Linked DNA regions of Homo sapiens. The protein of the gene in region 1 purifies or fractionates together with the protein of each later gene. This does not show direct contact. Each region holds a gene or a part of one and is shown in the gene's direction. Other genes may lie near its edges.

Region 1 (3,977 bases):
CTATGGCTTGGATGTAGCCCTCAACTGAAAGCCACAGTTTCTCTCAGATGGCCTGCTCCTAGGGGTGAGAATAGCTTCTAAATTTTGCTAGCCATGGGATTCTGCACCACTCCGTGTTGCATTTCCTTAACCCTGTCCACTTTGTGTAAATCGCCCCTTGTGAACTCTCCCCACTTACCTTGTTTGAATGTGCCATCTGTTTCTCTATCACCTTGTCACCATCTTCCTGGTGTTCAGGATCTATTCTCTGTTTCCATCTTTGGTGACTGGGGCATTAAAAAGGGGTGGATCAGATGAGTAAAGCAAAGCCTCAGGGCACAGATGGGCATCATCAATGCCCATCTGAAAGATCAATCGTCAACATGTTGCAGCCTGCCACTAGGAAGCACAAACCAGAGGACTACCAGGACAGCAGCTTGTAGCATGCCCTCCAATGGCAGCAGATGGCCTTATGGCTTTGGCTGTGCACCCTCAAGGTTCTCTGGCACTGGCAATAGATGACATTTGCTCCTACAGGGGGTGGGCAACCTCTCCAGGTTGCTTCACCTCCTCTTCAAGCAGCCCCTCCACCCCCTACCCCCAACCTACTCCTCCCAGATTCCACATATTATTGGGCAATGGCATCATTGTTCACTCACCAGGCGAGCCTAGTTAGAATTCACCCACAGGAGAAAACGAGTGAAGGCCGTGGGAAGCTAAAGTATGGTGCACCTCTGAGCTGGCTATGAACAAGTATTCCTGGGTATGGTGATGATGGGGATGAGCTCGTCTTGGAAAGGCAGGAGTTCTGGCACCTAGCTTCCCGTAGGATCTGGTTCCCCTCTTTGAAGTGTACCCAGGCGAAGAATGAGTGGCTCCCTTAACCCCTTCTCCTGGCCAGGACCAGTCTGCTAGATACTGCTGGCCCTATTTTCACCCCTAGCTTTGGATCCCTTTCTTCCCTGGAGGGAAAGAGGCCTTCAGGGCAGCCCCGCAGACACGACAGGAGGGATGCAAGAAAACAGGCGCGGCTGGGCATCCGAGCGTGGAAGGGAAATGTCCAACTGAGGGAGGTGAGGGATGTTGGACAAGCCCCGCCGCCCGCCGCACCGGAGCCGGAGAGAAGCAGAGACGTTGGGCCTCCCAGTTTCCTAGAGAGGCCGCGGAGGGCCCCGGGCGCCGACGCGCGTGCGCGACTGGAGCCGCCGGGAGGTAGGCGCGGGACGGGCGGCTGCGGTGGCGGCGGGTGGACCGATTGTCGCTCGGCGGCGGGAGTCGGTGAGAGGCCTGGCGGGGCGCGGGGGTGGGGGTGGCGGCATTGCGGGCGCGGGGCTCCCCGAAGTCCGCGGCATTCTCGGGCCTGCCCGGGCGGCGGACGGGGCCCGGCCTGGAGGCTGCGCCCGTGGCGGGGGTCTGGCGGTGGATCCCGCCCCCGCCACGCTGAGGGCGTATCTAGAACCTCTTTGCCTCCCAGGCGTCCGGGGTAGAGAATCTGGAGCCCGGGTTTCTCCGGGCTTTCTCGTTTCATCCAATTCTGCATATAAAGCGTATTTATCAGAGACAATTAGATAACACGGGAAAGTAGAAGAAAAGTAAAAGTAGCCGCAATCCTGAAATCTGTCTCCAGGCCTCCTGACATTTAAAATATCTGTGCATAATTCTGCACACTGACATCCATAAATATATATTACGAAATGAGAGCGTGCTCTTGCTTTTTAAAAAACCTGTTAGTATTATTGTGAGGAAACAATATTGTGCCAAAATAACACATAACATTTACCATACAATACATAAACGTTTACCATTTAACCATTTGGAAGTGTGTAATTCAGTGACATTAAGTATATCCATACTACTGCTTTTTAAAAATTATAATCTCCTGAATTTGTAGAATGCATTTGTTCTTATTTTGGCTAAAATTAGTGCTGGCATTATGACACCACTAAAACATTTTTTTTTTGGCGAGGATAATTAAGAAATCGTGTTTGCAGTTTATTTTCTGTAGGAGACACATTTGCATGAAGCTCTAAATGGTGAAGTGACATTTGTGCAGAAAAATAGCAAAATCTTGTTTGTCAGGGTGGTTATCTTTCACAATGAAGTAACTAGTATATAAAATGCAGTTTTTAAACAAAGGCAGAGCTCTAACCTGCAGCGATTGTAGCACACTCTGACTTGCACAGGCCTAAGAGATCAGAGTATTGTCTCCTTCCGAATTTAAAAGTGGTGGCCAGGAAAGAATGTTATTCTGTTTCAAACGGCTTGTAGTGCAAAACTAAAAACTCAGTATTAGGTTGGTTGTTTTGCAAGGAAGTGCCAGGGAGTGGTTTGAGCAGTAATTTGATTAAGCAGTTTCAGAGAGCCTCCATGTGTTGTGTGTGTGTCTGCGTGTGTGTGTGTGCATGCATGTGTGTGCATATTCAGGGACCAAAGAATTAGGCTGCTCTTTTATGTTATCTTAATGAAAGGCAGACACATTTTGGTTAGAAAAAAAAAAAAGTCTTACTGTAAGCCGAAAAGATGAGAATGTTTTGAAGATAAACCTCAGTATGCACTTAAAAAGGAAACTGACAAAAAGCATGAAAAATGGCAAGTATTCCACCGCTAGGTTTTCTCTGGCTTCCGGTATCCAGGAAGAATTAGTGCATAAGCAGTCTACGATGTCAGAGAGTAAACTATAGTAAAACATAACACTGTATTTTGCAATTTTCAAGATTTTGTATTAGAAACAATGTGAAAGAGTACATTTCTGTGACTCTCAGGCGAATTGTTAGGTGTTCTGTAAGATTGAATTTATGAATTTCTTTTTTTCCTTCCTATTCTTAAATTTATTTTCTTTTTCCTTGTTTATTTTATTTATTTTATTTTTGAGACGGAGTTTCACTCTTGTTGCCCAGGCTGGAGTGCAGTGGTGCAAACTCGGCTCACTGCAGCCTCCGCCTCCTGGGTTCAAGTGATTCTCCTGCCTCAGCCTCCCAAGTAGCTGGGATTACAGGTGTGTGCCACCACGCCCAGCTAATTTTTGTATTTTAAGTAAAGACGGGGTTTCACCGTATTGGTCAGGCTGGTCTCGAACTCCCGACCTCAGGTGATCTGCCTGCCTCAGCCTCCCAAAATGCTGGGATTACAGGCGTGAGCCACCGTGCCCGCCTCTTGTTTTATATTACTATGTAGCAGCTGTCACTGTTTAGCATACCACGAATCTGTCTCCTCATAGACGCCTCAAGGCAGTACTGGAACATACAGTAGGTTCTCAATAAATATATGACAAATTAATGAAAGAAGGAATCCAAATTGGTAGATAAAAATTGACAGTATTAAATGTCCTCGATTTTTAAGAGCCACTTACCAAGTTAATCTTTAATACCTGGCTGAGCATGGTGGCTCATGCCTGTAATCCCAGCACTTTGGGAGGCTGAGGTGGGTGGGTCACCTGAGGTCAGGAGTTCAAGACCAGCCTGGCCAGCATGGTGAAACCCCATCTCTACTAAAAATACAAAAAATTAGCTGGGCATGGTGGCGGGCACCTGTAATCCCAGCTACTTGGGAGGCTGAGGCAGGAGAATTGCTTGAACCCAGGAGGCGGAGGTTGCAGTGAGTGGAGGTCACGCCATCGTACTCCAGCCTGGGCAACAAGAGTGAAACTCCGTCTCAAAAAAACAAAACAAAACCTGTAATACCTAAAATGGAAATAAATCAGATAAAAATGATGATGACTGAATGACTGGAACTTCTCAATGTAAGATAAGACAAACCTTTTTTTTGAGACAGAGTTAACGCTCTTTCACCCAGGCTGGAGTGAAGTGGCATGATCTCAGCTCACTGCAACCTCTGCCCCGCCCCATCCCCTTTGAACAATTATCCCTCCTTAGCCTCCTGAGTAGCTGGGATTACAGGCATGCGCCACCACGCCCAGCTAATTTTCATATTTTTAGTCTCAAACTCCTGACCTCAGGTGATCCACCTGCCTCGGCCGTCCAAAGTACTAGGATTACAGG
Region 2 (3,500 bases), on another chromosome or scaffold:
CAAAGTGCTAGCTTTGGAGCCAGACTGCCTGGGTTTGTATATCAACATTGCCACTTGCAGATGTAGGATCTTGGGCCTCAGACTTCTTACCTGTAAAACAGGGGTGATAATAGAGCCTTCTTCGTGGCTTGTTGGGAGGATTCAAGTCTTTTATACATATAAAAGTACTAAGAGGCCGGGCACAGTGGCTCATGCCTGTAATCCTAGCACTTTGGGAGGCCGAGGCGGGTGTATCACCTGAGGTCAGGAGTTCGAGGCCAGCCTGGCCAACATGGTGAAACCCCATCTCTACTAAAAATACAAAAATTAGCCGGACATGGTGGCATGTGCCTGTAATCCTAGCTACTCAGGAGGCTGAGGCAGGAGAATTGCTTGAACCTGGAAGGCGGAGGTTGCAATGAGCCAAGATCTCACCACTGACTCCAGCCTGGGTGACAGAGCAAGACTCCATCTCAAAAACAAACAAAAAAAAGTACTTAGAAACTTATTCACAGGTCACCTTCTCACCGCGGCATTCGCCCCCTTCCCCTGTGCTCCTAACCTCCTTATCTGCTTTCTTCTCTCTTGCACCCATCATTACTTGGCATCTATTTCACATATTTGTTCTGCTCCTTTTCTATGTTCTACATACCCATCACCAGTAGAATGTGAGCCCCCCGAGGGCAGGGATTTGTCTCTTCCTCACCACTCTGTGCTTTTCACCTAGCGTTGTATTTGTCAAAGGAATGTTGAGAGAACAAGTGTTAGCTGCTGGTGGATGGCGTGGCCACAGAAGCTCAGTGTGGGTGTTGAATGTAGCAGGACCTGAATGGGTGGCCAAGGCGGCTGCACCATGTGGTGCTGGCTAGGGTGGGTGCCTCTGACTTGGGCTTTTTCTTTGCAGGTGTCACTCGAGAAGGTGCTTGGCATCACAGCCCAGAACAGCAGTGGCCTAACCTGTGACCCCGGCACAGGCCATGTGGCCTACCTGGCAGGGTAAGCAGATAAGGGCCTCGACGTCTAATCATTGCTAGGGAATTTGGAGCTTGGAACCTGAAGCCATCCGTAAATCGCTCTGAGCCTCATATTTTTCACCTGTAGAATGTGGAGAATGGGGCCTGCCTCTGAGAGCTGTGGAGAGGATTCCATAGCCCCCTCTCTGTCTAGAACAGTTCCTGGCATGTAGTGAGTGCAATGAAAGCCTTTATTATGACTACAGGGGGGAGGTGACAGCGATTCTGGGAAAGACAGGTGATTAAAGTCCACGCTGTGGTGTCAGGTAACCTGGATTTGTGTCCCAGCTCTGCCATGTATGCTGCTCTCTGAGCCTCTTCCTCTGCCTCTGTAAAACAGAGCTGGTGACCCCCTCTGCTTGCATAGTTGAGAAGACTGAAGAAGATGCTACAGCTGTTCATTCCATAAATACTCATGTAGCCTGGCACTGTGCTAAGGACGTCCCCTCTCTGGGTTTGTTTCCTTATCTATAAATGGGCCTAAATAGTCGTGACCTGACCTGGCAGTTGTGAGGATTTAAAACAATTACATCCCTCTTTCTCTCTTTTTGTTTTGTTTTGCTTTTTTGAGACAGAGTCTGGCTGTGTTGCCCAGGCTAGAATGCAATAGTGTGAATAACAGCTCACTACAGCCCCAACCTCCTGTGCTCAAGCGATCCTCCCATCTTCACCTCCCATGTAGCTGGGACTACAGGCACATGCCACCACAGCCAGCTAATTTTTTTTAGTGGAGATGAGATCTCACTCTGTCGCCCAGGCTGGTCTAAAACTCCTGAGCTCAAGTGATCCCTCCTGCCCCATACTCCCAAAGTGCTGGGATTATAGCCAGCTTAAGGTCTTAATTAGCCTAGGGCCTGACAGACATTACCTCAGAGGAAGTGTTGGTTTCTATTTAAGAACATAGCAATGTTAAAGTGCCCTAGAATTCTCAGCGTAAACACCTGGAGGAGGGGGAGGAGGAGGAGACCAGAGAGAACCGAGGGAGCTTGTTTATTTGTGGGCTTTTCTGGTGGGAATAGAATCATCCCAGGACCCCAACACTCCCCACAGTTGAGGCACATTTTCCTCTTTCTTCCCAGCTGTGTGGTGGTGATTTTGGACCCCAAGGAGAACAAGCAGCAGCACATCTTTAACACCGCCAGGTAGGCTGAGGCCTGGGCCCGGGGCAGGGGTGGAACCAGGGGCTTGGCACGCCTCCCCTCCCCTACACAGCCTGGAGATACTCATGGGTAGGTGCTCACTCATTCACTTACATGTTGGCTCAGCAGCATTCGCCTGTGCTGGGTGCTGTTCCGTGTGCTGGGGACACAGCAGTGACCAGAGGAGACGAGAATCTCTGCTGGCTAGAGCGAGACAGACTGTAAACTAGTCAGCAAATTACGGGCTGATCATGATCAGTGCTATGGAGGAAATGATGGAGGATGTCTTCGGGCAGGTTTGTGGGCAGAGAATAGGAGGAAAGCCTTATCAGAAGGCTCAGGGAACGCTGCCTTGACTCTGAGACCTGAAGGAAGCGAGAGGGTGACCCATAAGAAGCTGTAGGGAGAGCGCTTCAGGCAGGGGGCACAGGAAGGGCAAAGGCCCTGCAGTGGTTAAGAATCTCCGGCGCTTTAGAAGCAGCCAGGGATCTGGGTGCCTGGAGAAAGGAGCAGGGAAGATGAGGCTGGACCAGGCAGAAGCCACATCCCGTAGGCCTTGCAGCCTTGTAGAGGGTCTGCATAGCATGCTGAGTGCAGAGAGCAGCCACAGGAGGGCACCACAGGCCAGGAATGTGCTTTTCACCCCCAGCCCTCCAGCAGCTCTATTCCCTGCTTTGCTTTTCTCCACAAAATTTGCTCCCATCTCTGATATGCTGTCCAGTTTCCTCATTGATGGTATTCACTGTGGGTCTCCCTCAGTGTGAGCACTCTTGAGAGCAGGGACTTTCTCTGAGTTCATTTCTGTGTCCCTAGCACCAAAGAGCAGTATCTGGCATATTGATGGCTATTTTCTAAGAGAAAGACTTAACATGATTTGGGTTTTAGAAAGATCCCTTCAGCTATAAGTTTACTGGGGAAGGACCCGCTCCTCTGCCTTGGGGCTAACTGATCACTGCTACCCTGGGGATGTGGTCCCAATAGGGCTGTGACCTTTGGAAGGCACACCATGTCCCTCCTTGGCATAGCTCAGGCTCAGCTCCTTTGGCCCAGTTCTCCAGGTGGATGGATAAGGAGTGGGTTTTCTCCTGCCCTTATGGTCCCTAAGGTACGGTCCTTAAGCTACGGCAGGTTCTTGTTATCTGACAGAAGTGCATTCCCTCTTGAAAGTGGCTTTTTGGACCTTTTGCTCCTAACTGTGGGTTCTGTTACTGGTGATAAGGGCAGAGCTGGGTTCCATTCCTGGCTCAAGCGTCTATTCACTGTGGAATCTCAGGTGAGACACTTCTTTCAGAGCCTTGGTCTCCTCTGAAAATAAAATAGCTGCCTCCAACTGGGAGAGCATTCATAAGGCAGCAGCTACAAACCAGAG
Region 3 (3,500 bases), on another chromosome or scaffold:
GATAAGTGTTATATAATGATCACTGGATCAGTTAGAGTTTTTGAAACTTTTCCCCTAGTTAGGTAACTACTAAAAGAACATTGTGAAAATTCCAGAGAAGTATAAGGAAGAAAGTATCACTCACCTATATTCCTGTGGTTGAGTAGACAGTTTTGATCAGAGGGAGGAATGTAGAAGGGAAATTTATTTATTTATTATAGGAGAAAGGAGAAGGTATCAGTTATTGAGCATAGATAGACATTCAAAGAAACCTTGCAGGTCAGCCAGGCCTTGAGAGGAGATGGGGAGAGAGAAAGAGACAGAAATAGACAAAAGAAAACAGGCAGAACTCTGGAATGGTTTGCATTCTTCTGAAAACAGTCAGAGGAACCAAGAACATAGTAGGCATCTGGCCAAGTAGAGTTCAGTGCAGTTAAGGTCTTGGTCAAGGCTATGCATGTGTGTTCCCCAGTCTCTGGTTTTTCTGGCAGTAGAGATCCCTTCCTATGGTAATGGCATTATGATAAAAATCTAAAGCGTGTTAAAAAAAATAGTAATTTGCTGAGCATGGTGGCTCATGCCTGTAATCCCAGCACTTTGGGAGGCTGAGGCGGGTGGATGACTTGAAGTTAGGAGTTCGAGACCAGCCTGGCCAACATGGTGAAACCCTGTCTCTACTAAAAACACAAAAATTAGCTGGATGTGTTGGCGGGCGCCTGTAATCCCAGCTACTCAGGAGGCTGAGGCAGGAGAGTTGCTTGAACCCAGGAGGCGGAGGTTGCAGTGAGCCGAGATCTCGCCACTGCACTCCAGCCTGAGAGACAGAGTGAGGCTCTGTCTCAAAAAAAAAAAAAAAAAAAAAATTAGAGGAGAAGACACAAATACTCTAGCTAGCTCCTCTTTAGTGGGGAGGACAGGGAAGGGTTTGGGCCAAAGACAAAGACTATGGATATGAAGGGAAGGAATCTGTATTACAGTAAAACAGTTGACTTGAGTTTGCTCCTTAGTGCATCTGAGTCTTACCGAAAGGTTGCTTCTCCTGTAGACTGTCAGTTTAAGTGTTGATAATCAGTTGTATGGGTCACTTGTCTATGCTGTCTTGCTTGTTCTCAACATCATTGCCCAGAAGGATCTATGAATAGAAGAAGTTGCCTATTTCTTGGTTGGAGGCTTGTATAAATTGCCTAGGACTGGGACTGTGGCTTGGATAGCTATTCCTGCCCTTCCTATCATCCCAGGAAGGTTGGGCCCACCTGGGGAGAGAAGTAGAATAAGGAATTAGTACCTACCACCCTCGATTTGTTAATCTGAGCCCAAATTTTGAGTCTTACTGGATCTGTAAAGTGAAGTGACACCAGGCTTGTTTTTGTTCAGTGCTGTATATAGCAACTAATTGTGAGAGGATTGTAGCTGAGACCTTTATTATCTAGCTTTATGTCTTTGATAAATGATCAAAGGATATAGGGAATTATTAGATGTTAAGGCAGGCACATTGATTCAAAGACATTTGACATCTTGTTTCAACCTAAGCATTTTCATGGAGAGGAAGCAAGTCAGTCTGATGTTTGTATTTGCTGTTGTATAGATGACCACAGTGGCCTCTACACCATTTCCTTGTTGTCTTTCTCAGTCAACGTCGCTTCTCCGTGATGTTGCTGGAATAATCTTGCTAAAATTCCACATTGGTCATCAGGTCACAAGTTTGCTTTAAAAACCCATCACTGTTTTTCCTAATCAAATCTAAGTCTTTCATAATGCTCTGCAGTCTGGGTCCACCCTAATTGTCTAACTTAGAAGTCTCACAGGTTTCAGTTTTTTCTGTTTGTGTCCTGGATACATGTCTTTACCCTTTCTAGGAATTCCTCCCCGCTTCTCTCCACTTACACAGATCCTCCCAAATCTTCACTGCCCAGTCAAGGCTTCTTTCTGTGCCGAAGCCTTCCTAGACCTTCCCTGTTCACTCTTCTCTGCACTGCTACAACCCTCACAGCCTTTACTACACAATGCCACACTTCATTCTAATTGCTCTTACACCATGTGACTTCATGGAGTGTGTTAGCTTTCATTTCTCTGATAAGAGCATATTTCTTGTGAGGGAAAGTATCTTCTGTGTTCTTTTTGTAGCACATAGTAGGCACTTGTATTTGTTAAATAATTGATGATGCATATGGTGAGCTCCTTGCATCCCTTTTCTGTGGATATGCACACTTGGAAACTGAGTTGGAGCTGAGCATGCTTGTCATTGCAGCATGATTACATGTGGAGTCTGATTGCAGAGGGGTTTTGCTTTTGGTCCACATTTGATTTTCATGTAAGTAAACTAGGTTATGCTTAAAAAACAATAAGCGATATGAGAACATGTTTTTGACCTCTTCTGCAGTATACGCCATCCGAGAAGCTGCCACCAACAACCTCATGAAACTAGTTCAGAAGTTTGGTACAGAGTGGGCCCAAAATACTATTGTTCCCAAAGTGTTAGTAATGGCAAATGATCCTAATTACTTGCATAGAATGACCACTTTATTCTGCATTAATGTAAGTATAACATAACTGTTATTGCTAAGCTTAATCATTAAAGCAAAATTATTCATGACTATTTCTGAATTATCAGTATACTGTCTTCTATTTGGAATATATGTCTTGTATTGATTAATTGGAATAGACAGGAGATGAGAGAAAATGTCAATTTTAAAATTCATGTTAAAATCTACAGTATTGGCTGGGCACAGTGGCTCATGCCTGTAATCCCAGCACTTTGGGAGGCTGAGGCGGGCAGATCACCTGAGGTCAGGAGTTTGAGACTAGCCTGGTCAACATGGCAAGACCTTGTCTCTACTAAAAATACAAAAATTAGCCGGGCATGGTGGTGCATGCCTGTAGTCCCAGCTACTTGGGAGGCTGAGGCAGGAGACTCCCTTGAACCTTGGGCAGGGGGCAGAGGGTGCAGAGGTTGCAGTGAGCTGAGATCGCGCCACTACACTCCAGCTTGGGCGACAAGGCAAAACTCCGCCTGAAAAAAAAAAAAACAAAGAACAAAACTACAGTATTTTAAAAGTTCAACTTATTTGTGAATTCTGGTCTAATTCTCTGATCATTTGAATGATTCTTGTGTCCCCCACTCAGCTGCTCAAACTAGAAATATTTTCCTATTGGTCAATTATTTTCTTATTAAATATTAATTTGTTTCATTAGATTTTGGAATTTTTTAAAGTATTTTAAATGTGCCATCTTACTTATTTTTCTAGGCACTGTCTGAGGCCTGTGGTCAGGAAATAACTACTAAGCAAATGCTGCCCATCGTATTAAAAATGGCAGGAGACCAAGTAGCAAATGTTCGCTTCAATGTGGCCAAATCTCTACAAAAGATTGGACCAATTCTAGATACCAAGTAAGATTTTAGTGTTTAGTCTTGTTTTAAAAGTGTACTTTAAATTTTACCTTATAGTGGGGAGTAATTAGCTAAAATTAAGTTCAGGGATTTTCACTTTACTTAAGATCTGGGTTTGCTTAAAGAAAATAAT

What was found. Proteins that work in one complex are often made in the same cells at the same time.
Region 2: the proteins of ZNF445 (region 1) and WDR62 purify together in Homo sapiens (co-immunoprecipitation; one large-scale study listed by IntAct). This does not show direct contact.
Region 3: the proteins of ZNF445 (region 1) and PPP2R1B purify together in Homo sapiens (affinity purification with mass spectrometry, with the first as the bait; one large-scale study listed by BioGRID). This does not show direct contact.

What each region holds. Positions count from the first base shown.
Region 1 is NC_000003.12:44,474,871-44,478,847, reverse strand, and holds the start of ZNF445 (zinc finger protein 445), read left to right. Parts: upstream 1-1,177; 5' UTR 1,178-1,257; intron 1,258-3,977. UniProt on the Homo sapiens protein: Transcription regulator required to maintain maternal and paternal gene imprinting, a process by which gene expression is restricted in a parent of origin-specific manner by epigenetic modification of genomic DNA and chromatin, including DNA methylation.
Region 2 is NC_000019.10:36,057,897-36,061,396, forward strand, and holds part of WDR62 (WD repeat-containing protein 62), read left to right. Parts: intron 1-883; coding exon 884-975; intron 976-2,071; coding exon 2,072-2,134; intron 2,135-3,500. UniProt on the Homo sapiens protein: Required for cerebral cortical development. Plays a role in neuronal proliferation and migration.
Region 3 is NC_000011.10:111,742,390-111,745,889, reverse strand, and holds part of PPP2R1B (serine/threonine-protein phosphatase 2A 65 kDa regulatory subunit A beta isoform), read left to right. Parts: intron 1-2,359; coding exon 2,360-2,514; intron 2,515-3,224; coding exon 3,225-3,367; intron 3,368-3,500. UniProt on the Homo sapiens protein: The PR65 subunit of protein phosphatase 2A serves as a scaffolding molecule to coordinate the assembly of the catalytic subunit and a variable regulatory B subunit.